2 linked regions of the Homo sapiens genome follow. The protein of the gene in region 1 purifies or fractionates together with the protein of each later gene. This does not show direct contact. Each region holds a gene or a part of one and is shown on either strand. Other genes may lie near its edges.

The links. The genes of interacting proteins can lie anywhere in the genome.
Region 2: the proteins of NCBP2 (region 1) and KPNA4 purify together in Homo sapiens (affinity purification with mass spectrometry; 2 studies listed by BioGRID and IntAct, with this or other methods). This does not show direct contact.

What each region holds. Positions count from the first base shown.
Region 1 is NC_000003.12:196,934,906-196,937,217, forward strand, and holds the end of NCBP2 (nuclear cap-binding protein subunit 2), read right to left. Parts: intron 2,178-2,312; coding exon 2,106-2,177; 3' UTR 501-2,105; downstream 1-500. UniProt on the Homo sapiens protein: Component of the cap-binding complex (CBC), which binds co-transcriptionally to the 5' cap of pre-mRNAs and is involved in various processes such as pre-mRNA splicing, translation regulation, nonsense-mediated mRNA decay, RNA-mediated gene silencing (RNAi) by microRNAs (miRNAs) and mRNA export.
Region 2 is NC_000003.12:160,520,572-160,524,071, forward strand, and holds part of KPNA4 (importin subunit alpha-3), read right to left. Parts: intron 1,340-3,500; coding exon 1,208-1,339; intron 1-1,207. UniProt on the Homo sapiens protein: Functions in nuclear protein import as an adapter protein for nuclear receptor KPNB1. Binds specifically and directly to substrates containing either a simple or bipartite NLS motif.

The sequences.
Region 1 (2,312 bases):
TGACTGAGAAACTGAATGTTTAATTCTCACACTTCACTAACATGTATTAATAGTGATGCCTTCATCTGTACGTTTGAATTTTCACTTTTCTCCGATTAAAGTGAGAAACAGGTCAGATGCTATCCATGAGAAATAGGAAAGAATGGTGCAGTAAAGAGACTCACATTTAGTGTTCTCTAGCCCAGGAAACATAAGATGTTCTTAATCCACCCACAATTTCCCTTCCCTTGCAATCATCCAGAGCATGTTTTTTGGAAAACTAACCTATTCTTCCATCAGTAGAGGTTGCTTGGTGCCTATTTGATCACTTTCACAAGAAAATCTGTGCGCTCTCTTCACACGCAGCAATAGTTATTTCCAACTGTCAGTCAATCAAAATGGACACGCGAATTGTCCACACTATTCATAGAATCCCCCTGGAACTCATTCATGTGTATCCAGAGTACAGGAATTCCAGAACACAACCCTCTTTATAGGCCAGGAAACAGGCAGCAACAACGATAAGTTCATCCAGCTTTATTGAAACCTATTACAGAAGACAATCCGAATAAAACCACTGTCTCCTGTAGAAATCTGAGTTATGTTGTTTTACTACAAAAGAATATAAAACACATTAAATTACAGTGTGAAGGAATTTTAAAAATGAACAGTGTATCCTCATTAAATGTTTGCAAAGTTTCTTCCTAAGCACTTACAACTAGTTACAGCTCTTTTAAAAATTCAGATTTCTACACTCAGTTTAACGGGAGAGACATTCACACTTAGGTACTTCAGCCCCAACTTTCACGGACTATTGGAAATTAGAAGGTACTTTGTTGCTAAGTGAAAAAAATGCACATTTTTTCATATCAGGGAAAATTATACTGGACTTAACAGTTTTAAATGAGCAATAACTCAGATATATTAGAGAGAAATCACCTCTTGCCTTACAAATACCAAATAAATTCCCTAGACTCCCCTCCCTGTAGAGACCATCAGCTCACTGTGAAGGCTTGAGCCTCAGTAGGTAAAATTTGAGGAAAAAAATGAGAAATGGCTAAAAGAGGCATCTGCTGCAGGAACCTTCTGTGACTGTCAAACATTCCCTCTTCAAGCTCCCTTTTAAAACCCAGTCCATTCCCAACATCACTGAAAATGAAAAGAATAAACTTGCTGGTCCTCATGTCAAGGCAGTGTTTTCATTGTCTCTTGATATTTTATCCCATTTCCTATTGACAACATCTCCCCTACCCCTGAAATTATTTAGAGGTTCCCTCTATGACAAACCCTTGCTTTTTTTTAGCTTTAGGTATAACACTGACATCTTTTGAAAAACGTGTTAGTAAATACTCAAGTTCTGGCCTCATTTCCTGATGTATGAAGCATGGAAGCAGTGCTGTCCTGTGGAGATTGCTTTTGCACCAACTACACAGGAAGGTCCTTGACCTCTAAGCATGCCTTTAGAGGTTAGAATTCACAGAAAACAAATTCAATTGTCAAACACCTGTTCCTAATTTTGTGCAAAGCAATACAACATAGCACAACTCCATTTGTTGTTTTTCGTTGTGCTTTGTAGAGACGGGGTCTTGCTATGTTGCCCAGTCTAGTCTCAAACTCCTGGCCTCAAGCTATCCTTCCTCCTCAGCCTCCCAAAGTGTTGGGATTACACGTGTGAGCCACCATGCCTGGCCCCACCTCCATTTATTAGGCTATCTCATGCAAACTTAAAATTAAAAAAATAATCCCAGGCCCCAATGTAGATCATGAACCTACTTAAGACTCATTATGGTAAAAACAAATTCTTACATTTTTCTGTCTTTCTAAAAGTGTAGTGGTTATGGCTAAAGACTAATCAACATTACAGATCCAATCTGTTGTCAAAGAACACAATTTCTGACCTGGTAACAAAATTGTTCTGATAATCTGACACATGGCCAAGATTCTCAGACAAGAATTAAAGGCATTCTTTTGGATTCTGTCCTTTAATAACTTTCAGAGGCTTCCAGCTCAGTAAAGACACTGATCAAATCTTGGTAAAAATGGGCTCGTGTGCAGACTTTAGGTGATGTTCTTCAGCAAATTCAACAGGCCAAAGGAGTGTTTGTCACTGACAGAGCTCTCACCACTCACTGGTTCTGTGCCAGTTTTCCATAGCCTCCTCTCCCAGCATCGTAGTCCTGCCGATACTCATCCCGAACCTTTAATGGAAAGAATCCAGAGTTACAGTATGGAAAAGAATGGTGTAACAAATATGCCTCCCACAAACATGTTAGACAAACAGTGAAACCTGTTCAGATGCCACAATGTGAACATTTCAAGCAGGACATATGCAC
Region 2 (3,500 bases), about 36 Mb from region 1:
TTCTTTCTGTATTTAGCTAAGTGTTCCTTCTTTAAAGTGCTTTAATTTTAAGGTACAGGGTCTCTAATCTGACTATGTATCAGTATCACCTGAAGAGCATTTTAAAGCTCAAGTTTCTAAGAAATATTTTCTGAAACAGAAATCTCCAGGGGTTGAGCAGGAGAAATTAAAAACAGCTCCACACAGTTTATTTTGATGTTCAGGCATAATGACTTAGGCTACAGACTAACGGTTTCTCTTATGCGATTATTGTACTTTACAGATTCTAAGCCATTAGCAGATTAAAATATACTATTTACCTCAGAAAGGTAGAGGGAGCTTGCTGCGTCTCCCCCATTACAACTGTAGCTTAACAGCTACTGCTTATATCTCTGAGAACTTCTCACACTCTGTTTTTGGCTCTTTCTAAATGCAAATTCTTTGGGATAAATATTATGTGAAAGAATTTAAACAATAAAAAATAAATTTAAATAAGTGAAAAGCAACAATTTAGAAAGTCCCTAAACAGCACATTTCAGTAGAGTACCCTTATTTCAGCACCAATGAAGATAAGAGTTAACTAAACTTGCCAGGTGAGTAAATAAGGATGGTTGGCAAGGAAGAAAAAAAAAGAAGTAGGGAAGTGAAAGAGGAAGAACAAAAAGAAGAGGAGTAGGAAAAAATAAGTGTCTGTCAATACTTGTTTCAGATGCCATGCATGTTGCTATAATGAACTTCCCTGGTCTACATTAAAAATCAGTAATCCGGCCAGGCATGGTGGTTCACACCTGTAATCTCAGCACTTTGGGAGGCTGGGGTGGAAGGATCATTTGAGGCCAGGAGTTCAAGAGCAGCCTGGCCAACATGGCAAAACCCTGACTGTATCAAAAATAGAAAAAAATTAGCTACACATGATGGTGTGTGCCTGTGATCCCAACCACTCAAGAGGCTGAGGTGGGAGAATGTTCCTTGAACCTAGGAAGTGGAGGTTGTAGTGAGCTGAGATCACGCCACCTCACTCCAGCCTGGGTGACAGTGAGACCCCATCTTAAAAAAAGAAATTAGTAATCTACAATGGCATCTTATTATTTATTTTCCCCTTTCCATCACAGATTTGTTGTTATGCTAAGAATATACTTTAAACTACTGAAATTGTCCATCTTTGAATGCCATGCTTAAAGCAATTAGTGGTAAGAAATACTTATAATTTAACTAAGAACAAACTTACCTGAACTTTAACTTCCTGGTGGCTGAGCAGAGGAACCAAATGAGGAACTATTCCAGAGTCTATTACCATCTGTATTTGTTCATTGCCAGCATCAGTAAGGTAAGAGAGGGCCCAGACTGTGTCTACCAGTATCTAATGAATAAAATAAAAATTCAAACAACTTTTAAATATTTTCTCATTTTAGTAATTCTTGACCAAACAACCATTCTAAAATTGTTCAACTACCTTCTTCCTTCTTTTCTTCTCTCAGTTTAATTCATTGGAATCTGATCGCTACGGTATTAAACATCATCATCTATAAATGTCTGTACTAAGACGTACATCTTTTAGCCATATTCAGGATTCTGATCCCAGATTAGTATCCAATCTTAGTTCACTAAGATACACACGCACACTACACAGCTCATAAAACAGGAGAAAAAGACATTCTCTTTCCCAAAGGCTGAGGGATAACAGGTCCAAAAACATTGTGGCTCATGTATAAAGCTGGAAAGACTACATGTATCCAACATGCACAGTTGTTCAAAACATCTGGGCTAGATGAATATATTCAAGGAGTTCTCTAGTATTGTAAGTACCATGTAGATATGCCTAAAGCCAATAACCCAAGTATTCATATTGTAGTATAAAATACTTTAATCTTTTCCAACCAGTTTGTTTTGCCTTACAGAACTGGAGACAACTTTTTTTTTTTTTTGAGACGGAGTCTCGCTCTGTCGCCCAGGCTGGAGTGCAGCAGCGCGATCTCGGTTCACTGCAAGCTCCGCCTCCCGGGTTCATGCCATTCTCCTGCCTCAGCCTCCCGAGTAGCTGGGACTACAGGCGCATGCCGCAACGCCTGGCTAAGTTTTGGCATTTTTCAGTAGAGACGGGGTTTCACCGTGTTAGCCAAGATGGTCTCGATCTCCTGACCTCATGATCCGCCCGCCTCGGCCTCCCAAAGTGCTGGGATTACAGGCGTAAGCCACTGCGCCCGGCCAGCAACTTCTTAAATAGTGGAAGTCCCCTACAGCTGCAGATCAAGACATTAAAATAATCATAGGTCAATCTGTGAGACCTGTAATTAAAACAAAAAATACGTACTTCACTACAGCTGCTACTTATGAAAAAAAAAAAAAAGCCTGTGTAATCAACTTCTACTAAGTAGCCTACCATTTTTTTTAACGATTACATCTTTAAGTACAACAGGCCATGTGTTTGATCTTTCCTAGTACGTTAGGTCCTAATTAGAAGTTATGACCAAAGGGCAGTATGACAAACAACTGTAACTGCTGCAAATAAATACACAAATTATTGACAAAGACATGGGAATAATAATTGTGCCTAAAACTACTTCCAAAGCCTTTCCAGAATATGAACTCTGTGTCAAGACAAGCTGGAGAAGTGTAAAACCTTTAAAACAATAAACTAGGCAGGGAGTAGTGGCTCACGCCTGTAACCCCAGCACTTTGGGAGACCAAGGCAGGTGGACTGCTTGAGCCCAGGAGTTACAGACCAGCCTGGGCAACACGGTGAAACCCCGTCTCTATGAAAAACAGAAACAATTCGGCATTGTTTATTTTTTCTTGTTTTTATGACCCTGACTTTAAAAAAATCGTAAAACTGTAAACTAATGTTATGCTTAGGACACCCAAGAGAAAATAAAAAAATAAGATAAAAAAAACCAAAAAGACACCCCGAAACTCCTAAAAGGTGAAAATAATGCTTTGCCATTGTTTCTTAGGAAATTCAAGAAAGCTCTAAGGATATTTCTAATGTAAAAAGAAGACATCAAATGAGAGTTCGCACAGGCTGGGTGTGGTGGCTCACGCCTGCAATCCCAGCACTTTGGGGGGCCAAGGTGGGTGGATCACGAGGTCAAGAGTTCAAGACCAGCCTGGCCAACATAGTGAAACCCTGTCTCCACTAAAAAATGCAAAAAAATTAGCCAGGCGTGGTGGCGGGCATCTGTAAACCCAGCTACTCGGGAGGCTGAGGCAGGAGAATCGCTGGAACCCAGGAGGCAGAGGTTGCAGTGAGTGGAGATCATGCCACTGCACTCCAGCCTGGGAAACAGTGCGAGACTCTGTCTCAAAAAGAAAAAAAAAAGAATTCACATAAAAAAATGGTATCAATATATGTGAAAAAACCTAAATTTCAATTTGCAAATGTAACTGAGTTTCTTTTCTGGAATATTAACATATGCTAAAATTTGTTGACATAGGCCAAAAATTTCAAGTTACTTGCTCATAACTGTATATAAAAGCTAGATACATGTTTTTAAAGGACATGTCACTAATATGCTCAGATCAAA